4 linked regions of the Homo sapiens genome follow. The protein of the gene in region 1 purifies or fractionates together with the protein of each later gene. This does not show direct contact. Each region holds a gene or a part of one and is shown on either strand. Other genes may lie near its edges.

Region 1 (6,316 bases):
AGCGCACGGCCGCATTCATGCCAGCCGCCGGGGCCCCCACATTCAGGATGGCCAGGGAGAAGTTAGACTTCAGAGAGAAGGGGAGATGAGCGTGAGGCACAGCCGGGGAGGGGACCCCCAACCTGCACAGGAGGTCAGCAGGCCGGCAGGTTCTGGAAAAAGGGGCCAGGCCCTGCCAGCAGCCTGGACGCTGCCCAGCACACCGCCCAACTGCCCTGGGAATACGGTATCTGTTCTAATTCCAGAAGATTCTGGTGAAGACCAAAAGAGACACGGTGCAAGCCTGGCCCCCTGGCACGCAGGCAACAGAGGAGGCAGAAGGGGCGAGCACTGTTGTGAAGCCAGGCTTGCGGGCGGGAACACAGGTCAGTGCCCACACAAGGGGCTGGCAGCGGGCGGGAGGGTGGGGGGTGCACAGCCACGAGTAAGGAAGGGGCCCTGGCTATCCTGTTTTCTAGTAGCCACGTTAAGGGAAGGGAAAAGACATGGAGACAGTCCCATCAGGACTACAGTTAATTTAACCTGATGGACCCAAAACCCCACCACATCCATGTGAATCCAGTGACGGCCGCCACCACCTCCCCTCCACCCACCGTGCTGAGGCTCTGAACCTGGCGTGCACCTGTCACGTGCAGCACATCCCACTTGGCAGCAGCCACACCCAAGGGCTCCATAGCCACATGGCCCCACTGGGTCCTGGTACGAGCCAGCCCTGCTGCCCACAAAGCCAGTCACGCCCCTGCCAGGTTCTGGGTTCGTGGAGACCAGGTTGCCCCACCACGGAGGGTAGAGCCCGCTGACTAGCTCTGGGGATAAGCAGGAGGCTGGAGCAGCAGGGACACCCAAAGATGTCCATGGAAGGGAGGACCAGACTCAGGCTGGGCCACGCTGTCTGCCCCGGCCTGCAGCTCCGGCTGTGGCTCAAGGGGCTTGGGAGCCAGGACCTCACTGGCCGTGACTCTCTCTACAGGACCCTCGTCCCCCAGGACTTTAGAAACAAGCCATTTCATCCTTATTTTGGAGAGATCCCATTTCCTGAGGTTTTCAGCTGTTTGGGAACATTTTATTTTCAGAGTTTCACTCTTGCCGCCCGGGCTGGAGTGCAATGGCACGATCTCGGCTCACTGCACCCTCCACCTCCCAAGTTCAAGCTATTCTCCTGCCTCAGCCTCCTGAGTAGCTGTGATTACAGGCATGTGCCACCACCACGCCCAGCTAATTTTTGTATTTTTAGTAGAGACGGAGTTTCACCATGTTGGCCAGGCTGGTCTCGAACTCCTGACCTCAGGTGAACTGGCCACCTCAGCCTTCCAAAGTGCTGGGATTACAGGTGTGAGCCTGGCCCCGGGGGACATTTTCTACACAATGGCTTCTCCTCTCCTGAGTTAAGCCTGTGGCCTGACTTCATTTCCATCCACCACTGAGAAGCAACAGCCAGCCCTGCAGCCAGGGTCCCAGCACCCGGGACCTGCCAGCCACAGTGGTGCCTGAGCCCAGGCAGAGGTCAGGCCCACCCTCCCAGCTCACAGCTCGGACCCCAGCAGGAGGGAAGGTGGGGGCAGGCAGGCCCAGCCACGGGGCCAGCGTGAAGAGGCTGCAGAATAACTGAGCCCGTTCCTCCCTCTGTGGGCGCCGCTCCCTGCCTCACCTTCTCCTTGGGGGGCTTCTGGTGGGCGAGGAGCTTGTAAATGTTCCAGTTGTTCTCGAAGCTCCTGGAAGGGATTCGGGTCACACCATGCACAGCCCTGCAGCGCCACGGCGTACAGCCACAGCGCAGCCGTGACAGAGCCCAGGAGGCTGGTCACAGGCACACGGCCCGATGGAAGCTCAGCCATGAGGCAGCAGACACCGCGCATGCCAGGCAGGGCACCTTCCACAGAAGGTGCGAGACCCCCAACACAACACGAGGCCACGCCAGCCCGTGCAGCAAAGCACGTGGCCGGCATCCAGCTCAAGGGAGGGTTGGCCACCTTGGTAGCGGGTGGAGGCACGCATGGGAACCCAGACGTCCAATCCAGCCTGACCCGGCCGCCAGGACGCCTGCAGGGGGGTGGTACCCACACCCAACATCTGCCAGCCTTCCCAGCCCCCGCGGGGCCACCCCATGTCCTGGGCTTGTATCCACAGCTTCTCATCCCCTCGCCATGCCCAGATCCCTGTGCACTGGGCCCTGCCCGTGCCACCGCCCAGGGTCTCCTGTGGTACCACACCTCCCAGCCCGCCTCCTGTACCACCCGCAGGCCCCTTCCTCCCTCGATCTTCAGACGCGGTGCCTAGAAGGATGACCCAGGCCAGGCGTGCATAGCGCCACTGCAGCACATGCTGCCTGGCACCGGGACCCAGCCATGTAAGAGTGCAGGGGTCTGCTGAGGGGGCTTACCCACCACGGAGCTGGGTGGCCTCGTCAAACCTCTTGTCATCCATGGCTTTCTGCACTTCCTTGGTCTTAAGGAAGAGAAACAGAACACAGACTATGGAGAGCCTGGCCCGCACACCCATGGCTACTGCCCTGTCTGGTGGGCCTGACGAGGGCAGATCTGGCCGGCATCTCCTGACCCTGGCCCAGGCCTGGCAGCCTCTCCCTAGGAACAGCGGTCACCACCAAGGCCAGCTCTTCTGGGGCTGGCTGAGACCAGGAGGCCCTACCCTGCCCCCAGCTGCCCTCCTCACCTCTCAGCAGCTCCAGCTCCAGGCAGGGCACTCTGCCCCAGTTGCAGGCCTCCAAACCCACCGAGCCAGGGCTGGACCAGCCCCCACACCCGGCCCCCTCGCCTCTGCCTTCCCCGTACCTCCTCTCCTGGGGTCCCTGCTCCAGCCACCCCAGTGTTCCCCATCACCTGCCTGAGCTCCTCCCAGGGCTCTGCTCTGATCACTGGCCCCTCCTCCTCCGTCCCATCGTAACCCCAACTCCCACCACTGCCTACAGAAGCTCAGTGGCCGTGGACCCCTGTGACTTCCCATGCTCACCAGGCTCCCTGCAGCTCCGACACACCTCCTGGGGAACGTCCCAGGTCCCACGTCCCACCCAGGGATGTGCTCACATCCCTCCCCTCCCTGGAGACCTGGGATGCCCTGGGCCAGCCACGAGGCCCTGCCCTCCGGTGCTCACAGTGCTGGGGCCCCCAGAGAGCAGTGGGGCCTGTGAGTGGGGACTGGGGAGAGGGGCCAGGCGGTTCTGATGGGGGGGGCCCAGGGCTTACCATCTGCACGCACTCCATGAGGGGCAGCCGCACTGACTGGTTCCCCGAGAGGGTGACCACGCAGGCCGGCGTGTCAGGCGTGGCTTCCAGCAGCGCCATCACCGCCTCCATGCCCATCTTGCTGCTCTGTGGGGAAGGGTTCAGGCTGGCACACCCACTTGGTCCCTCTACCCCAAGCCACATGCCCATCCTCTGTAGATGTGCAAACCCCAGCTTCCAGAGCCCCCCACGCTGACGGAAGCTTCCAGAACAGGTGGCATCAGAGATGGAAACGTGTCTGACCAGCATTCACGACGGCACACCAGACACCATTTCACAGAGTCCTCGCTGCCCTGCTGGAAGGCCCAGCCTGCACTGCTGGCTGCAGGGTGCCATGCAATGCGACCCACCCACCGTCGCTCGCTGCCATCGCTAGGCGCGCAAGGCAAGGGCGGGAGCCAGGTCCCCAGGGCCCCATCCGCTGCGATGGATCCTCCCGTGGAGGCCCTCATGTCGTGACTTCCCTGGTGTGTGTCCGCACCGGCCAAAGGGCTGGGCAGAGGACACATCCAGGAGCTGCCCCCCAGGGACACACTGCAAAGGCAGGCCCCAGCCCCACCCCGGGAACCGGCCACAGTGGACAAGAAAGCCAGGCCTGCGGTTGCCGTGGCCGTCCCATGACCACCAGTGGCCAGCCCTGTAGAAGCCCAGCAGCTGGACCCCCGGGGCCACAGACAGCCCTCCGTGTTCCACACAGGTTTTTTCATCTTGCAAGTGAGGCACAGGCGGCACCTTATTCTGGGCAGTCTCTCCAGGACGCTGTTTAGGGAGCAGCCTCGGAGACACCCCCCATGCAGGATGAGGCTCCTTGGAAAAGTGCAGGTTACCACTGCACGTGCTAGGGTCCCCTGGCCCCTTCGCAGCACCCAGTGGGAATACGGGCTCAGGGAGCACAAGAATGCTGACGCTCTGGGTGACAGCCGCGGCTAGGGGCGATCAACTGTCCTTTGTTTCACACCCGGCATCAGGCATCCAAGACACTGGCTGGAAAACCCAGCAGCCTGCAGGCTGGGAGTGCATGGCTGGCCCGGTCACAGCAGCGGCATTTCCATCACCCCAGGCTCAGCAGCGGCTGGCTTGCCCTGATGTCCCCGGCCCCTCAAGAGGCTCTTCAGAGTGAGCCTGAGGCCTCACAGAGGGGACAGCAGCTGCCTGGCTAGGTCGGCGGGGCCCCTCTCTGAGGAAGCCTCCCCTCTATAGAGTGGCCCTCGTCCAGCTGTGTGGGTTCCCTGGGAATGCTCGGCTCAGCACACGAGTCACAGGGCCAGGTGCAGTCACAGGGCTGGGCGCAGTCACCTGGTCTCCCTCAGCACAAGTCCCACCTGTCTGACAGTCTCTGGCCCTGCCTGAGAGGGTGACCACCCTCATACACAGGCATTTTGCCTACCATGGTGCCTTCCTGGCCCCAGACCCACTCCATTTGGCTCCAACTTCATTCCCATTTTGCAGAGGACAAAGTGAGACCCAGCGGTGATCAGGACCAAGGACGGCGAGGCCAGGCCAGACCCCGAATGCTCCCTCCCAGCACCAGCCTCCCAGACTGTGACGCCACAGGCGCCATGGGCACCACCCTCTGCCCACCCAGCCCCTCTCCCAGGGCCTGCCCCTGGCCCTGACTGCTGCCACGTTGGGCTGGCAGAGGGTGGGGGTCAGAACAGCCAGGAGGCACAGGCTGGTGGGGGGCCTCCCATGGTCCCCAGGTCTGAGTTCCCTATACCTGCAGGGGAACGGAGAAGCCAGGCCTCAGTCTCCCCCAGGAGGAGCAACAGCTTGAGGGAACACCCACACACACCCACACTGACACACACCCACACACACTGCCACACACACCCACACGGACCAGACACACACAGACACACCCACAAGGACCACGCGTCCCCCACACATACACCCCCACACACAGACACGGACACTCACCCACAGCCACATGGACACAGTGCACGTGCCATGCTCGCGTGCACACTGCCCACACCCACACCCACACACCACGCTTACCCACGCACGTACGCAGGGCAGGGTGATGGCCACTTACCAGGATCCGGTCGAAGGCAGAGGGCGTCCCTCCCCGCTGCACGTGGCCCAGCACAGTTACACGGGTGTCGAAGCCCAGCCTCTGAACCACCAGCTGCAGGACAGTGGGAAGGACCAGCCCTGAGCCCCAGCCCACACGGCCTAGAGGAGCAGGTGCCCAGTGGCCACCCCCAGGCCCACACGCACGTCCTTCACGTAGCTGGACGAGATGGGCTTCCCGTTGCGGTCAATGGCACCCTCAGCGATGATGATGATGTTCAGTCGGGACCCACGGCTCCGAGTCTGGGTCAAAGACACGACAGGGCTCAGCTGCCAGGCAGGGAAACCTGCCCCGGACACAGCCCCCGGGTGCCAGGAGCCCTCCCTGGGGCCACCATTCCCAACCCACATGGGCCAGGGCACAATCCCCACCCAGCAGGAGGAAAGCAGGCCTGGAGCGCGAGGGCAGAGATGAGGCTGGGCCCACTAGGACGCCCCGCCCTCCTGGAGGCGGTGAACAAGAGGGCTCTGCCCGAAAGCCTGGGAAGGGCAGCAGGGGAGGAAGGGGGCCCTCGGGGCTGGGCCCAGCACACACACAGCTGGGGCTGGGCCCTTGTGTCTGGTGAAGCCTTCCAGGCGGGAAGACGCACAGGGCTGCAGCTCCACGGGGCACAGGGCAGAGGGGCCTGCCCGGGCTAGCCTGGGCCAGGTACCTGGGGCCCCTGTGAGCTTCCATCTGCTCATCCTTATAACCAGGGGCCCCGCATCGCTGGCACCAGCCAGGGCTCCCCGGACACCCTGCACCCTGAAGCCACTGTGGGTCCACACTGGTGCACATAGGACACACCATCCCCTCTGCCAGCCTCAGGCTGCTGCCTCAGCACCACACACCAGCCGCGGCCCAGCTCTCTGGGAACTGAAAGAGCTTTTCGGCCGTCCACTTCAATGACCCAGCCAACATTTGTGGGACTCGCTCTGAGCCACAAGCCCCATGTTTGCCCACCACGGGCCACAATGCCTCCTACAGGGACAGGGTTGGAGCAGCTCAGACAGGGCCCGGGTGTGGT
Region 2 (6,316 bases), on another chromosome or scaffold:
GGTGGGGTAAATGTGTAGACTCCAGTGAAGCAGAATTAAGAAGGCATTCAAGAAGGCAGAGGGAGGCCTCGTGTGGTGGCTCATGCCTGTTATCCCAGCACTTTGGGAGGCTGAGGAGGGCAGATCACCTGAAGTCAAGAGTTCAAGACCAGCCTGGCCAACATGGCAAAATCCCGTCTCTACTAAAAATACAAAAACTAGCCAGACATGGCAGTGCATGCCTGTAGTCCCAGCTACTCAGAAGGCTGAGGTACAAGAATCGCTTGAATTCAGGAAGTAGAGGTTGCAGTGAGCTGAGATCATGCCAGCCTGGGTGACGGAATGAGATTCTGTTTCCAGAAAAAAAGAGGCAAGGCAGATGAGAGCAGGGCCTGCCTGGTCACCGTGAAAAGTCAACTTCTTTGCCACAAGGCAAACATACACCTTGTGTGCACAGGCTGCCAATCCATGGCCTATGGCCTGAAAGCAATGACTTTGGGATTAAAATAAAACAGGTGGTAGGACTCCTTGTCCATATCTTTTTATAGCAATAGGTAGAAAGGAGCTAATAGATAGGTCTGCTTTTTTTTTTTTTTTGAGATGGAGTCTTGCTCTGTCACCCAGGCTGGAGTGCAGTGGTGTGATCTCAGCTCACTGCAACCTCCGCCTCCAGGGTTCAAGTGATTCTCCTGCCTCAGCTTCCCAAGTAGCTGGGACTACAGGCACCTGCCACCACGCCTGGCTAATTTTTTTGTATTTTTAGTAGAGACAGGGTTTCACCATATTGGCCAGGCTGGTCTCAAACTCCTGACCTCAAGTGACCCACCCACCTCGGCCTCCCAAAGTGCTGGGATTACAGGCATGAGCCACCACACCAGCCTTTTTTTTTTTTTTTAAAGAGAATTTCAGAGAATTGGTATGCACAGAGATTACCAGAAGAAGCCGAGGCCCACTCACCGTATAATACTTCAGTTTCTTGTTGTGCATGTGAATGATATTGGTACAGACACCATTCAGAAAATCCTGGGAATGGGAGACGAGGACCAAGATGCGCTTAAAACTGTAAAGCCAAAGAACCAATTAGTGAAGAGCTCAACCATGGGAGCTAGCTGACAACAGGTGAACTGAAAGTCAGGCCCATCCTCATCCCTAAGCACCTTTTAGATGTGTTGTCCAATTCCTGGCTGTTAGCAAGCACCTAAGCCACGACTCGACAATCTAACTGTAAGGGTATTTGGACGCCTTTCAGTGTGGCGAGACAGCCTGAGTTTCCTCAATCTTCTGTTCTAATTTTCAACAGAATGGGATGGAGACGGTAGTAACAGTGATAGTAACCAGAAGTGTGTATGTACACAAATACACCCACGAATGTATCCAAAACTGTGGGTGGGAAGAACTGGTACAGACACAATAAAAAACAAAATGCTTTACTTTTTGAAAGAAGGTACTAAGTCATCGTACCACTAAAAGCCTTCTTTTAAAATTGGTACAATATTCCAGCTTATTCAGTTCTTTAGCTGTAGGACCATGACCATATTGGCTATATTTTCCTTTGTCACTGCATCATGATCTTAGATGGAAGACCTCTTTTTAGCTTTATACAATTAAGAAAAAAAATATATCTTTAATTAAGATCTTGAATTTGAAATATGGACAAAACCAACAAGGATTTTTTTTAAAAAAAAAAGCTCATAAATTTCAAACTAAAGAAAAACAATCAAAATAAAAGGCCAGCCTTCAACAGCCCTAAAGGTGCTCACTGCTTGTCCAAGAAAGTGAACTCTGTCCTTCCTTCAGTTCCTTTCTCACCGCTCTAACATCAGTGCAGTTTCTGGGCATCCATTTTCTAGATTCCCCCTTTGGGACCTGCCCGCTCACATCCCCCATTCCACCCTCTTACGTTTTTAGTTCTTCTTCCAACCACACGCAAGCATCTAGGTCCAGGTGGTTGGTAGGCTCATCCAGGAGCAGCATGAAGGGCCGAATAAAGAGGGCTCTGAAGGACGGTAAAGGAGACAGAAGCACCTCAGAATTATAATGGATGTGACACAGGACGGGACAAACTTGCCTGCTACATGCAATTCTGAGTAGGCTCCTGGCTTGAGTCTTGAAATCAATTTTAGGCTCTATACCTCAGAGGGAAAAGGAGAAGCAGGACAGAAACAAGAGTCGAAGAGAAGAGATTGAAGAGTAGAATACGGGGCTCAGAAGCATATAAGGACAGTTCGAGGCAAGGCTGTAGAAGTCTTTATGAGTTTATGAGCCTTGTGCACTGAAGTTGGAGACTACGGAGAAGACAAAAAAATACAGAGGAAATAAACTGCTAAAACAAATTAGACCTATCTGAAGGTCTGAAGATAGACCTATCTTGTGGGGTGGCCAGAGTCTAGCGAGGGATAGACTCTAAAGCTCTGGTTCCCAAACCAGAAATCTGTGTTTTTAAAAGCTCCTTGGGTGAACCGGAGGCAGCTAATCCTTGCTAGCATGTGGAACCACTGTGCTTATACTCTAAGGCACATGCAGGCAACTTTCTAGAGAAGTATATCAAGTCTTATAAATTCCCTTCACAGAGAATGATGGGGCAAGGAATTACCTGTTTAGTGACTCTGGGGGGATTATTGGGGGAATGCTGGTCTATGGAAACTCACTTTGAGTCCAGGCCACAAGAGAATAAGAACGACAGCTATCATAATAGCCGTCTAACATTTTATCTTTACAGCTGGAATTAGCAGGACTAGAGTACAAAAAGGGTGGAAAGGGAATCCTGGTGGGAGGACAGAAACAGACCTACTCCACCGTTTTACCTAGGACTACCCCTAGGATCTCTAAACTCTGTGCTGGGTGCTAAGAATCCAATAGAAAACTGAGTCACTCTACCACTTCAGCCAGGAAGCTCTCTCTCTAGCCCATACACAACAACCCCCTCCACACTGCAGATGTCCATGTCTCATTTGACACTTACCACTGACTCCTGTTCCAAACAGTTCCACTGGAGTGAACACTAAACACTGGAGAGATGGGGGAGTTATGGGGGTAGGGAAGGAGGGAGGGACTCACCTGGCAAGGGCAACCCTCATCCTCCAGCCCCCACTGAAGTCTTTTAGCTTCTTGCGCTGCATGGCAGGTGTGAAACCCAGTCCATGCAAGATCCGCGAGGCCCTCATCTCTGCCTTGTCGGCATCCAGCTCCTCCAGGCGCTCGTAGAGCTCCATGAGCTTCTCACACTCCGCTGTGGACAGTGTATGGCCATGAGGCTCCTGGGGGCCTTTCTGGGAGGACGCCCACCCCTATGCCCAGGTCTGGAGCCCTACCATCCTCATGAGCCAGCCGCTCTGCCTCTTTCTCCAGCATGGCCCGCTCTGTGTCGACTTCCATCACACAATGCAAGGGTGTCTTGTCACTAGGGGGCATCTCTCGAGTCAGATGGTAGATGTCGATGTGCTCAGGGATGGGCACTTCACGCTTCCCAATAGCAGAGAGCAGCATGGACTTTCCTGAGAGGGGAGAGCAGCAGACGCTTGGTACAGTGAACTCCCCTATCCCTCTTCACCACTAGTTCTTCCACCCCAGTCAAACTGGGACCTCATCCATTTTTTTTTTTTTGAGGACCTTTCTTCCCTTCATTCGTTCAAATCTTGCCAGCCCCCATTCTTGGGATTCCTTTCTAACTTTCCTCCAATTCTTGCCCCACCCCTTATCTGAAGCTTTTTTCACTTACCACAGCTTCACACGCCCCTGACCAACTTCTCCAGCACCTGCTGTAACTAATCATGTGGTACAGGGTGGACGCACCCTAATCTGAAAATCCAAAATGCTCCAAAATCCAAAACCTTTTAAGTGCTCACATGATGCTTAAAGGAAATGCTCACTGGAGAATTTCAGGTTTTTGGATTAGGGATGCTCAGCCGGTAAGTATAATGCAAATATTCCAAGATCCGAAACACTTCTGGTTCCAAGCATTTCAGATAAGGGATACTCAACCTGTACATAACACATACTGCTCTGCGTTGCTAGTTCCTTTCCCCTGGACATAATCTGGTCTCCCATCCCTATTCTAAATGCTTTGCTCTGAACACAGTTGATGCTAAATAAATGCTTGTGAGTGACAGATGAGCTAAGGAGAGATACCTCCCACCTCCCCTTCCAAGGCCTCACCAATTCCATTTAAACCAATGAGGCCATAACGACGGCCTGAGTTTAATTCCAGTTTGGTGTCACTGAGCAGCTCTTGACCATGAAAGGTAAGTGAGAGGTTGATGATGTGAACATCAGTACTGTTGGGGTGAGAGGCCAGGACGCCAGTGACAGCTCGAGCAGCAGCTTTCTTCATCTCAAAGTCCTCTAGCTCCTTGGTCAGCAAATCTACTTCTGCGGATAGAAAAGCAGTTTGGGAAGATGGCGTGAGACAGACTCGGCTCTCCACAAAGGTCAACGTCCTGAAGGACCAGGCTCCAATCCTGCTGAGCACTCAGATGTTTCCCAAACTTTACAGAGTGCACAATGACACAGAGCTGCCCCGACACCCTGCTTTCCTTTGTTTTGTCCTCCCATATCTGTTTACTTACTCCCATCACTCTTAACTTCTGTCCTCCACTACTGTGGCCAGGAATAAAACTTCCCCACAGCCTGACTTTATTGCTCTTTCTAATTGCTTTCTAAGTCCCCCTTTTCTGAACGCCTATCTGTTACAACTTGCAGACTAATTCTCCTTTCCTCTTCAAACATTTACTTAGTGTCTACCTGAGAAGCAAGTCATAAAAAAAACCCAAGACAGGGTCCTTGCACTCAAAGATGAAACAATTTAGACAAAGAAACAGGAGATACAACATAAAAAGGTAAGTAACACTAAAAGACAGCAAAAGGGTATAGAGAATGGAAATACTGTGGTCAGGTTTGACTGAGAGACGCTTCATTATCTTGAGCTGGGCCTTGACAGAAATGTCAAATGTAGCTAGCAAAAACATGATGGTATTATAATTCAGTGTGTGAAAGGACAGAGATGTGGTGACTATCCAAGAGATAATAAATAGTCTGGATGGAGCAGAAGGCTGTTTAGGGAGTTTTCAGGGGGCAGGGAAGAGGGCTGGGATTGGACTGCCAAGGGCCTGGAATAGTCTTTACCGCATATGGCCATGTTTCCCAGTCTAGACGGTAAGTTTTTGGAGGGAAGACGGTAGTGCCTCAGTGTATAGCACCATGTCTAGCACTTGAGAAATAATAAATATTTCCCAAAATATAAATAACAGAAAGGGAGCTCTCTCCCAGGAAAAACCCCATAAATCAACTCATAAGTTACTCTCTTGTAGGTAGAGCCACTACACCAGTGAGAGGACAAGCTTATTGTATAATGTAGCAAAGAACCTGGCACATTGGTCACCATGCATAGAAATGGAAACTGAGAAAGGGGCAGGGAACTGATCCCCTCCTCACAATCTAATAGAGCAGCAAGGCAGCTCAGCAACTCTCACATCCGCTTGCCACTGAGTATGTGAGAACCTCGTCTTCGGCTTCCTTGCGCAATGACAGGGTGGCACGAATTCCAACTCTACTGATTTGATTCATCATGAAAAGTTGCATGACACCAGATACATTCTCCACTACCCCCAGCATCAAGATTCCAACTCTGGCTGGGGCATGCATTAAGTCTTAGCAACCATCCCCAACTCACCCCTCCCTCAATTCACCTGTGGTCTCTCTGCCATTGGCCTCATTCTTCTCTGCCACCTGTGGTTCTGTGACAACATCTCCATTTTCTTCATGTCCTTTTCTGGGCCGCTGTCGAGCTTTGGCAGCCTCCTTCTTTTTGGCTGCCTTCTTCTTGGCCAGGTCGGAGGGCATGATGATGACCCACAGGGGTAGGTTACTGTTGTTTCAGGGAGCCTGAAGGAAGGCAAACAGATACCCCCAAACCCTAAACTTACTAGTAAGAATGCCTGGGCCCTGCTCCATCCCTCTCAGGAATCTTCGTATCAACATCAAGCCTCTGATGCCCTGGCCTGCCCCCGCCTCGTCTGTTCCAACTTGGTCAGGGTATCCCAAACCAATGCCGATTCTCAGCGGCTCTTCTAATCTTAACATCTCTTCCCACAGGCACCAGTCCCCCACGGACTGCCTCACTTTGGAAACGCTCCTTCTTTCAGGGCCTCCGGCTGGGGACCAGGTTCTGCCCCTCAGCGGAGGTCTCCGTCTCCGGTTTCCCTACAACTTGGCGCTCCGCACTCAGCTAGCCGCCTCACTTTCCGGGCTTCCTCCTCCCGTCCGTCTCGGGCCTCTTCTCGATCGTCCCTCTCCACATCACCCGGCCGTCGAGCCCAGCCTCTTGCCGGGACGCACTCGT
Region 3 (4,566 bases), on another chromosome or scaffold:
CCCCAGGGGGCCAGGTGGTGGCACTGCCCCAGCTCACCCAGCACTGCGTTGTCCAGGCTCACGTACACTACGGCTTTGAGGTGCAGCACGCTGAGGTAGCCCTGTGGGTGGGTGACCAGTGTGGAGTGGGAACCCCCCACCCCCACCTCTCCCCAATGCCTAACGACCTGCCCGGGACCCCGTATCACCTCTAGCCACTCCGTGGAGCCCACGCTTCCAAAGTCACCACCGTCCCAGCTGATGAAGAGGAGACTTCTGCGGGGCCGGAAGCCTGGGGACAGAGGGGAAGGAGGACAGGCTTAGCAGGGGCCAAGCAAAGACCCTCCCCTTGTCTTCTTCTGTCCTGGTCCCCCAGGGTCTCTGTTTCTCTGTCTCTCTCTCTGAGACAGGATCTCACTCTCTCGCCCAGGCTGGAGTGCAGTGGTGCAATCATGGCTCAATGTAGCCTTGACCTCTCAGGTTCAAGTCATCCTCTTGCCTCAGCCTCCCAAGTAGCTGGGATTACAGGCATGCACCACTAAGTCCAGCCAATTTTTAAAAAACTTTTGTAGAGATGCAGTCTCCCTATGTTGCCCAGGCTGGTTTTGAATTCCTGGTCTCCAGCGATTCTCCTGTGTTGGCCTCCCAAAGTGCTGGGATTACAGGCATGAGCCATCACGTCCAGCCCAACATGCTTAATCTTGACACAGACCCATGGACTATGATTATCATTCATGTCACTTTTTTTCTTTTCTTTTCTTTCTTTTTTTTAGAAGGAGGCTCATTCTGTTGCCCAGGCTGGAGTGCAGTGGTGCGATCTCGGCTTACTGCAAACTCCGCCTCCCAGGTTCAAGCGATTCTCCTGCCTCAGCCTCCCTAGTAGCTGGGATTACAGGCGCCCTCCACCACGCCTGGCTAATTTTTGTATTTTTAGTAGAGGGTTTCACCATGTTGGCTAGGCTGGTCTCAAACTCCTGACCTCAGGTGATCCATCTGCCTCGGCCTCCCAAAGTGCTGGGACTACAGGCGTGAGCTACCGCACCCGGCCTCACTTTCATTTTTAGGTGACGAAATAGAGGTGAAGTGACTGGCCCAGGGCCACTCAGGTACAATGTGGATGCCGAGGTCCAAGTGACCACTGGCCAGTCTGTGTCCCTCACTGCCTCTCTGCCCTATCCTCCTCGGGCCACAGGCCCACCGCTGCCTAGCCCAGGCCCAGGCCCTGGCCCTGACCTTACCGTTGCTCACCATGGAGGAAAAGGTCCGCACCAGCTCCAGGAGTATAGCCGTCCCCACAGCGGATTTAGCTGCTCCTGGGCCCCATGCATCCCTCTGGGCCCCGATGACAACGTAGTGATCTGGGGAGGGGATGTTTGGGACCCACTTCTGACACTGCACCCTGCACCCTGGGGGCATCCTCCATCTGCCTGTGTCTCTCAGCCCATCACAATTCCGGCAACCCTAGCCCTGCAGTCCCTCCAGTCCCTAAAGAGGGCGCCCCTCCCCACTTGGCCCTTCCTGGATGGTGTGCTCCTTCAGCTGGGTGCCTGAGGTCATTCTGGACTTACAAGGTTTCTGTCACCCAGGCTGGAGTGTGCAGTGGTGTGATCATAGCTCACTGCAGCTTCAAACTCCCTGGCTCAAGCCATCCTCCTGCCTGAGCCTCCCAAGTAGCTGGGACCACAGATGTGTGCCACCATGCTCGGCTAATTTCTTTTACTTACTTACTTATTTATTTATTTAATTTATTTTTTGGAGTCTCGCTCTGTTGCCCAGGCTGGAGTGCAGTGGCACGATCTTGGCTCACGGCAAGCTCCACCTCCCGGGTTCACGCCATTCTCCTGCCTCAGCCTCCTGAGTAGCTGGGAGTACAGGCGCCTGCCACCATGCCCAGCTAATTTTTTTGTATTTTTAGTAGACAGGGTTTCACCATGTTAGCCAGGATGGTCTCGATCTCCTGACCTCATGATCCGCCCACCTCGGCCTTCCAAAGTGCTGGGATTACAGGCGTGAGCCACCGCACCCAGCCAATTTCTCTTATTTTTAAATTTTTTGTGAAGTCTTGGCTTTGTTGCCCCATCTGTCAATTACTTATTTTAATTCTCCACTGCCATCCACATCTAGCTATGCTTGAAAGGGCCATCTATGCTTCTATCTAATCTGATCTGATCTTTCTTTCATGCTTGAGTCTTCCTTCCTTCCTTCCTTCCTTCCTTCCTTTCTCTCTCTCTCTTTCTTTCTTTTTTTCTTTCTCTTTCTCTCTTTCTTTCTTTCTCTTTTTTTTCTTTTTCTTGAGACAAAGTCTTGCTCTGTTGCCCAGGCTGGAGTGCAATGGCACAATCTCGGCTCACAGCAGCCTCCACCTCCTGGGTTCAAGTGATTCTCCTGTCCGAGCCTCCGGAATAGCTGGAATTACAGATGCATGCCACCGGGCCCAGCTAATGTTTGTATTTTTAGTAGAGACGGGGTTTCACCATGTTAGCCAAGCTGGTCTCAAACTCCTGACCTCAAGTGATCCACCTGCCTGGGCCTCCCAAAGTGCTGGGATTACAGGCGTGAGCCACCACACCCGGCCCATGCTTGAGTTTCTATTACAACATCATCCAACTTAGGCTTACTCACTTCCAGTGCTGGGGAGCTCACTACTGGGCAACAACCCCCATTCCATCACTAGACAGGCTGGAAGGTGAGGTCTGTTCACTGCTGCCACCATCAGACCCAGTTCAGCCTCAACTTGCCAGCTTCCCTCCTCTGGGCACCACTCCTGTCCCCTCTTGGGGCCTCCTGCACCAGCCCCCTATCTTGCCAGGGTGTATGGGCAGAAATTCCCCCAGCCCACCACCAGCTGTGAGTGATACTGGACACACAGCATACCTGGCTCTGAGCGGCCTTCGATGCAGCCGAAGATGTTGTTGATGGGGGTGGAGGTCCTGTGATTGTTGACCACTAGCCGCAGTCGTGGCCCGGGGCCCAGGTGATAAGGGGAGCCTAGGAGGCTCCCCTGCCATTCTTGGGGGGCCACAGGGCCTTTGAGCTTCCTGGAGAGGAGGAAGGCAGAAAGGGGGAAGTTGTAGAGAGACCCAGAAGAGTCCAAATCACTCTTTTCCTTATTTCTTTCCCTCCCACCCTTTCTGGCTCCAGATCGCTGCCTCTGGACGCTGCCTGGGTAGGGCAGTGCAGTCAGGGCTGCCTTGGATGGTTCTCAGCTGAGGTAGGTGTGCAATCCAGTGGGAACTTTAGTTGCCAGACAGTAGACCCTGGAGAAAGGCTGTGTCCATCCAGAAGAGTCACTTTTTTTTTTTTTTTTTTTTTTTTTAAAGAGTCAGGGTCCCGGCCAGGCATGGTGGCTCACACCTGTAATCCCAGCATTTTGGGAGGCCGAGATGGGCGGATCACTAGGTCAGGAGTTCGAGACCAGTCTGGCCAACATGGTGAAACCCTCTACTAAAAATACAAAAATTAGCCGGGCGTGGTGGGGGGGCACCTGTAATCCTAGATACTCTGGAGTCTGAGGCAGAAGAATCACTTGAACCCGGGAGGTGGAGGTTGCAGTGAGCCAAGATTGCACCACTGCACTCCAGCCTGGAAGACAGAGCAAGACTCCATCTCAAAAAAAAAAAAAGGTCAGGGTCTCTCTGTCTCCCAGGCTGGAGTGCAGTGGTGTAGTCATGGCTCACTGCAGGCTTAAACAAGAGTCACCTTTTTCTAGTTCACCCACAATCACCCTGTGGCCTCGCTGCAGCCTTCCTCTCTCTGCTTCCTCCTCTTCTGGTCCCCAACACTCCCCTCACCTCAGCAGGCGGGAGGCAATGTCTGCACTGATGGGCTGGGCTGGGATGCTGGGAAGGCCTGATGATGCAACTGGAGGGAACTGGGTTTGATTGAAGGAAGGGAAGCCAGGTGTGTAGGGGTCTCCAGTTCCCAGGTGCACCTGCAGGGAAAGGGGTGCCCACGCAAAGCTGCGAGCTGGGCTTCCAGGAAAAACGAAAAACATGCCAGCCCTATTCTGAGCAAGAAGGTGTGGCCTCGGGACCTGGGAACAGCACGACCAGCCTCCCCAGACTCACATGTCCATACACTGCCTGCTGGCTGGACAGGCTTGGCTTGGGTGGGTCCTGGGAGAAGTCCGCTGGCTCTGGGTATATGAGCACTCCTTGAGCCCCGAAGTCCTGAGCATTGGTCACCTGGGGAGGAAGGTGACTAGAGGACTCCTCCCAGAAAAAAACCCGATTCATAAGGGCAGGAGAAACCAGGAAATGGCAAGGCCTTTGCTTGCAACTGTCCATCCCACGGAGAGGATGTGGGGGCACTACCTGGCCTGTGTCTTCCCAACCTCAGCAGCTCCTAGGCAGCCCTCAAACCCCACCGGGCTCCAGGGTACCCCATGTTTCTGTTCCCTTCCCCATCTGATTTCCCCCAACACCCAATTTGTTCCCAGCCAACATTTTCTTTTTTCCTTCTGATTCAATTCCCAGACCAGCCAACATTTTCCTTCCTTCCTTCCTCCCTCCCTCCCTCCCTTCTCTGTTTCTCTCTCTTTTTTTTTTTTTTCTTTTTGAGACAGAGTCTCTCTTGCCCAGGCTGGAG
Region 4 (6,316 bases), on another chromosome or scaffold:
AAGCTCACACCTGCAGTGCCAGAACATAAGAAGTGACATAACCACTGCAACTTCACATTTGTACATTTGTTTTACAATGTACAAAATATTTCACATTCTGTCTATGATCTTACAACAATCTTAAGAGGTAGACACAGTGAGTATTAAGTCTATATTTCAGATGGAAAAACTCACTTCAGAAAGGTTATATGACTTATACATGGTAAAATTACGGTGACTAGGAATCAGAAGGCTTGGATTTACTTCCTGCCTCTACTCAATACCTTTGTGTAAAAGCTGTGTAAACCTTATACACATGCTTATAGCATTGATGTTAACTGTTGTTGAAAGCACTCTATAAATTATAAAATCCTACATTAATAGATGAGTAACAACTCTATGACTCCTAGGCCAGTACTCTTTTTTTTTTTTTTTTTTTGGTTGGTCTCAGTTTTTAATAGTGGCAGGGCCTCACACACTTGCACACGTGCGCATGCACGCACACACACTCTAAGGCTTCAGACCTTGTTGAAAGCTGCAACATCGACACTCTACACACGCTCTCAAACTTGGTAATCTCCTCTTCCAGAAAGTTTGTCCCCACCTTGTCGTCCCCCACCACACACTGAATCTGCAGCTTCCGGATACCGTAGCCCATGGGCACCAGCTTGGAGGCCCCCCTAGACCAGCCCGTCCAGCTGGATGAAGCGCATACAGGCCTCCAATTGGGCTATATTGGTCTCATTGTCCCAAGGCTTGATGTCCAGCGGGATGGAGGACTTGACCACCAACGCAGTCTTCTTGGCCTTCTTCTCCACATACCACCTCAGCCACTTCTCCCACAGCCGGGCTGCCTCCTTGTCTTCCTCCTCATTGTCGCTGACAAACAGGTCAATGTCATTGTCCTTGTCACCCTCTGCTAGTGTGGCTGCCTTCTTGGCTGGGGGCTCCACTTGGCACATGGGAGACACATGCTGGATCTGCGTGGCTGTGTCCCTGTGGCCAGGCAAGCTCTTCTCCAGCATGTTCAGCCACAGGCCAGCACTCTTTTCACTATACTAAGTTGTCAGACCCACAGAGAACTAACACCCATTGATAACTCACTGTGAGTTAATGACTGCTAAAGGGACACTGCACATCATGGCCTGCAAAACTATCCATAGGACCCAGCCACACGTAGGATGTGCCACACATCTAAGAATATTCAGTCAGCTCTAACCACGCTGTAGGCTTCCAGAGACCCAATATACAAAAGGGAGAATACAGCAAATGCTCCTAGTGTACAGTATTCTCTGTACTCCTAGAATACAGAGAATACAGAATCTACCTCCTAGAAAATTGTTAATAGCTCACTGCCCATGTACTTCCATAGCTGCCTATTTGTTCTCAAATCCATTCTCTTTTTCAATTACTTACCAAGCTTGTTTACTTAGGGAAAAGGATGTCTCAAGTCTTGCTAAGCAGAGATATTAAATTAGATTTTTCAGTTCTTCCAGGCCTCGGCACCCAAACAATCCTGTTAATGAACCCACAGCTCCTCTGGCTTTCCTTGCTGGGCCAAGCTTGAGCTCCATGAAGCTGTGCCAGTCTCGACTCTGCCTTGTAGCCAGCACTGCCATTCTCATAGTGAAAGGCTGTTTGCCTCTGCCAGCCCCATTCCACCCTTGAATAAACAACCTTTCCAGCTAGCCAAAATGCTTAGCTTCTTTCAACTGGGACTCTGTAATTTGAATCTGTAATCCAATTAGACATTTCTTAACCAAATTTGGCAACTCTTCACCATTTAAATTAGGTTTTGATCTTTCATTCCTCTCTCTTCCTAAGCATGGACTTTCTGGCAGAAGAACTGGTAATGAAGAAAACTGTTTCATTCTATCTCAGGCCTAGGCTAACAAAAACTACAATAATAATAATAAATGTGTAACTCTGTGAATTATAAAATCCGATGTTAAATGATTATTAATATCACCAGGCTCCTTTCATTATACTAGGCTATAAATACCTCTCCCCAACATCTTCCCCGCACTACCTCTTACCCTATCTTTCCTAGAAATGCATTTGCTGAGACTTTGTCTTTTTCTGCTTTCAGAATTTTGCTGAAGAATATCCCTCTTGGTCAGAAGCAAAACATCTGCTACACTTCCCAGGACAGGCCATTCTATAACCTTGACTTCATTAAGAGGAAAAGCTATCTTAGCATTTTATTTCCCCTTTTGCCCATATTAACATAAAACTTTGAGCTTCAATTTCTAAACAGCTGTTCTAGTTCCACATCTTCACATTCTTCCTAAAACAGAAATCTTAGGTAGGATTCCCATTATTAGCTTATCACAATGTACAGAAACTCATGACGTGTGTAAGGAATGAACATACCAATGAATATCTACACATCTCCAAGCATATACATAATTTCTTGCCCAATAAATCAACAGTCCCTTACATAGTGCATAAAGTCATGCTGTCCAATACAATAGCCACTAGCCACATGTGGCTGTCTAAATTAATTAAAATGATATAAAATTTAAAATTTAGTTCCTTAGTTGCTCAACAGCCACATGTAGCTAGTGGCTACAAAACCACATTGGACAGCAGAGATATAAAACATTTCTGTCATCACAGAAGGTTTATTGGACAGCACTGATAGAGGCTGTTTATGAATAATACTGTTGTGAGAAATGGTGACTAGAAGCACTGAACACAGGTCACGGGTAACCAATGCTTTTTACAAATCCACTAAAACAACTTGTCTGGGAAGTGAATTCTGCTGTTGCAGCATGAGTAGCAGATTTAAAAGTACATTTTGGCTTTAACAGGTAATCTGGATCCTTACCAAAAATTTCTTTTTCTCACTGGCCCCTGCACATGAGCTTGTTGTTACTGTGGGGCTGTTCAGAAGGGCTGAGCTGCTGCTGTTGTGTTTTTTCTTTAAAAACAAAAAAACTGAGGTTAATAATTTGTATCCTTCGTGCAACATAAGTTTGACAACATTGAAGTAAATCATGGATCCAAAGATCTAGTACCTCTTGTTAAGATTACTTCCTAACAGTCAATCCTTTTTAGGCTTCTGCCTTCATAACCACTGACTTCACTCTACCAGCGCAGCAGCAGGCACAGCAAAAGATCAAGACTTCCCTCATCATGGCTTTTAGGCTCTAAGCAGAAGGAGTCCTAAAAAGGAATCCTCCTTCAAGGAACCATCAGTGACCATTCCGCCCCTCCTTTTCCCAGCCTCGTCCTTTTGGGCCTTCCAATTCAAGAAAGCTTCCCCTTTTCACCCACTAACTGATATTCATGCTAATAGTCCAGTCTGGAGAAAGATCAGCTAACTGGAGCAATGTTAGCAAGCACACACTACATAGGAAGACAGGAAGGAAAGTGAGGTCATTAGGCTCAAGCAAGGGGGAGGGGACTCACTTCTGGTAAAATGCTCCTTCGAAAAGTGGCTTTGAATACAAATGAGTTATAGCAAGGGAGAACTCACACAGTCAGACTGAATAACATATGAAAATAGTGTAAGAATGGGCCCTTATCTGTTTATACCTCCAGTACTATAAGGTAACAACAACAAAAGCAGCTTTTTAAACTAATCCTTCTGTTTTAACATGAAACAAAAGGACTCCTCTTCCCTTGGGGTCCCTAGGATTCCTAAAGGCAGGAAATACTCTGGAAGGCTCTATCTAGCAGACCACAGACAGGAAAAGTTTTAGGGCCTTATACTATCTCTAGGAACCAATTCTGAAGAATTGGTAAACAAGGTGCAAATGAGAAGAAAGGAGGTTAGCTGATAACAAACAGAACCAAAAGGGAGAATGTCATACACAAATTTTCATCAAACATGCCCAATATAGCTAGCTGACACAGCACTGGATACCCACTAGGTAGGAAAGCTCCCCATCATTCACTCCTCTCTGCAGAACAAAGTACCCAGGAAACAGGTAAGTGGCACTACAGGTGAGAAGAAGATTGTCAATGACACACAAGTTTAAATGTTAAGGAAAATAGGCAATGTTTTCCTAAAGAAGCATACAACTCTCAATAAAACAGGCACTATCAATAAGGTTAATAAGGTAAAATAACTGTAAACAGTAATAACAAAATCACTCATTATTGCCTTCAGAATATACTAGGTGACATTTTAATTAATAAATTTACCTTCTTAATTATATTTTACATAAGCTAATACCAAATTAATTAGTTTTTCCTGACTATATACTGTAAGGTAGCTAAAAACCTTCTGACTTAGGGATCATGAATCTGAATTAAATATTTGCCAAATATCAGTAAAGGGGAAAAACGAATATGAATACTGTCCCCATAACAGATGAAATGCTTACACAAGGCTTTAAGACTCCAAATCATAGATCCATAACTGCATGGCATATATAACTTTTTTTTTTTTTTTGAGACAGAGTTTCACTCTGTCTTGCCCAGGCTGGAGTGCAGTGGTGCTATCTCGGCTCACTGCAGCCTTTGCCTTCCAGGTTCAAGCGATTCTCCTGTCTCAGCTTCCTGAGTAGCTGGGACTACAGGCATGGACCACCACACCTGGCTAATTTTGTGTTTTTTAGTAGGGACAGGGTTTCACCATGTTGGCCAGGCTGGTCTCAAACTACTGACTTCAGGTGATCCGCCTGCCTCGGCCTCCCAATATCACTTACCATTTAACCATACCTGGTTGGTATGTATTACTTCCCATTTAACAGACTGTGAAAGGAAGGGGTCAAAAGCATTCAACCCTGGTAATGTAGTCTCCTTGGCTTTTCGTATATTTCCCATTTGAAAACCCCTCCCCAACAAATCTCACTTAGCTCTGCCAGGGTCACACACACCTGCCTATTTGAGTGACCTGTGTCTTTGTTCTTCATGGTCTCATATCCAGGCATCCGGTGACGTCGGTTCATCTGGAGGGCCACCAGATCGTTCATGATTGAGTTCAATGCCTCCTGTTCGTCTGCAATGAAAGAGAGCACATGGACTAAGACACTTAAATACAGACCAGCAAAGCTCTTTCACAAACTGTATAACTAATACTCAGGGAGTTCTGCCCAGGTAAAATGACAGACCCTGTAACTATAATCAGATGCAGCCCAAAAGGTCAGACTATGGCAATTTGAATTTTAATGGATTCTTTTTTTTCTTCGAGACAAGGTCTTGCTCTGTCACTCAGGCTGGAGTGCAGTGGCGTGATCATAGCTCACTGCAGCCTCCAACTCTGGGGCTCAAGTGACCTTCCCACATCAGCCTCCTGAGTAGCTGGGAACACAGGCATGCACCACCATGCCTGGATGATTTTTTTATTTTTTGTAGAGACGGGGTCTCCCCATGTTGCCCAGGCTGGTCTCCAACTCCTGGACTCCAGTGATCCTCCTGCCTCGGCCTCCCAAAGTGCTAAGATTACATACAGGTGTGGGCCACCATGCCTGGCCTTTAATGGTTTCTTAATAGCCCTCCAATCAGATTTCCTGCAGCAATATTTACCAATTCATTGCAGGGAAGGGACACGCTCAAACAGGGCAGTTGGTCCAGTGCCAGAGAAACTTAACCAGGAAAAATAGATGAAAAATTGAAGTGAAGAACACAGTACAATGTAATATGGTACTGAATGAAAAGATGAATCCATAGAGAGAGGATTATGGCACAGTGTCAGTCCCAGACTTATTCTTAAAGCATCATAAGGAGGAGAGCACACTTTAAAAGGTACCAAATAAGGGCCTCAGGTAACTGCTTTGAACAGAAGTTGTTTTACAAGCCTAGCATTTGAATGCCGCCACCACCAGCAACCCCCACAACTCTTTACAAGTTTATAGGCCTACTACTTCCCATGGGGAAGTCAAAGGGTAGTTCTATTGTTTTTCCTCCCTAAGCTGACCAAGCAATGCATTGTCTCCACCTTACTGGCATTACTTTTAATCCCCTTTTCTTGAAATAGCATGGAGTACTAGAGTTCTCATACATTGAAAACAACTGGCCAAAACCCAGAACACAAACCAGTCCAATTCCATGTTGTACAAATTTTTCCCAGGTCCTTTAAGAGATCTTTGCCCATTCAAATAGCATTTGGAGATTGAAAATGAATAAATCTGTTGATCGTGAAGGGAACATGAGGGATGAGTTGTTACACTTGCTTTGGTGACAACTGAGCCATTTGGGGACTTGGGGCACACCTTAAAAGAAGCAAATACAAAAGATTCCACCCAAAGAGAGTGCCTATCTTCTACCCTTTATCACTGTCCCTTGGAAATATTCTAATACCCTGTGGAAAGAAACGAACAGCATGAAATGTAGGAAGTAAAACTGCTCAAGTCTCTTCTCCCACTACTGATTAACTGATTGACTG

The links.
Region 2: the proteins of PFKL (region 1) and ABCF2 fractionate together in Homo sapiens (co-fractionation; one large-scale study listed by BioGRID). This does not show direct contact.
Region 3: the proteins of PFKL (region 1) and TFR2 purify together in Homo sapiens (affinity purification with mass spectrometry, with the first as the bait; one large-scale study listed by BioGRID). This does not show direct contact.
Region 4: the proteins of PFKL (region 1) and MAP3K3 purify together in Homo sapiens (tandem affinity purification; one large-scale study listed by IntAct). This does not show direct contact.

What each region holds. Positions count from the first base shown.
Region 1 is NC_000021.9:44,315,480-44,321,795, reverse strand, and holds part of PFKL (ATP-dependent 6-phosphofructokinase, liver type), read right to left. Parts: intron 5,553-6,316; coding exon 5,457-5,552; intron 5,365-5,456; coding exon 5,272-5,364; intron 3,327-5,271; coding exon 3,201-3,326; intron 2,446-3,200; coding exon 2,381-2,445; intron 1,713-2,380; coding exon 1,649-1,712; intron 68-1,648; coding exon 1-67. UniProt on the Homo sapiens protein: Catalyzes the phosphorylation of D-fructose 6-phosphate to fructose 1,6-bisphosphate by ATP, the first committing step of glycolysis.
Region 2 is NC_000007.14:151,220,642-151,226,957, forward strand, and holds part of ABCF2 (ATP-binding cassette sub-family F member 2), read right to left. Parts: intron 5,860-6,316; 5' UTR 5,818-5,859; coding exon 5,664-5,817; intron 4,348-5,663; coding exon 4,135-4,347; intron 3,474-4,134; coding exon 3,291-3,473; intron 3,209-3,290; coding exon 3,037-3,208; intron 1,976-3,036; coding exon 1,880-1,975; intron 1,040-1,879; coding exon 937-1,039; intron 1-936. Other genes in the region: ABCF2-H2BK1 (ABCF2-H2B protein), read right to left, coding at 937-1,039, 1,880-1,975, 3,037-3,208, 3,291-3,473, 4,135-4,347, 5,664-5,817.
Region 3 is NC_000007.14:100,628,036-100,632,601, forward strand, and holds part of TFR2 (transferrin receptor protein 2), read right to left. Parts: intron 4,164-4,566; coding exon 4,047-4,163; intron 3,911-4,046; coding exon 3,771-3,910; intron 3,191-3,770; exon of another isoform or gene 3,121-3,190; intron 3,018-3,120; coding exon 2,854-3,017; intron 1,338-2,853; coding exon 1,218-1,337; intron 272-1,217; coding exon 189-271; intron 102-188; coding exon 38-101; intron 1-37. UniProt on the Homo sapiens protein: Mediates cellular uptake of transferrin-bound iron in a non-iron dependent manner. May be involved in iron metabolism, hepatocyte function and erythrocyte differentiation.
Region 4 is NC_000017.11:63,631,295-63,637,610, reverse strand, and holds part of MAP3K3 (mitogen-activated protein kinase kinase kinase 3), read right to left. Parts: intron 4,931-6,316; coding exon 4,809-4,930; intron 2,903-4,808; coding exon of another isoform or gene 2,810-2,902; intron 1-2,809. UniProt on the Homo sapiens protein: Component of a protein kinase signal transduction cascade. Mediates activation of the NF-kappa-B, AP1 and DDIT3 transcriptional regulators.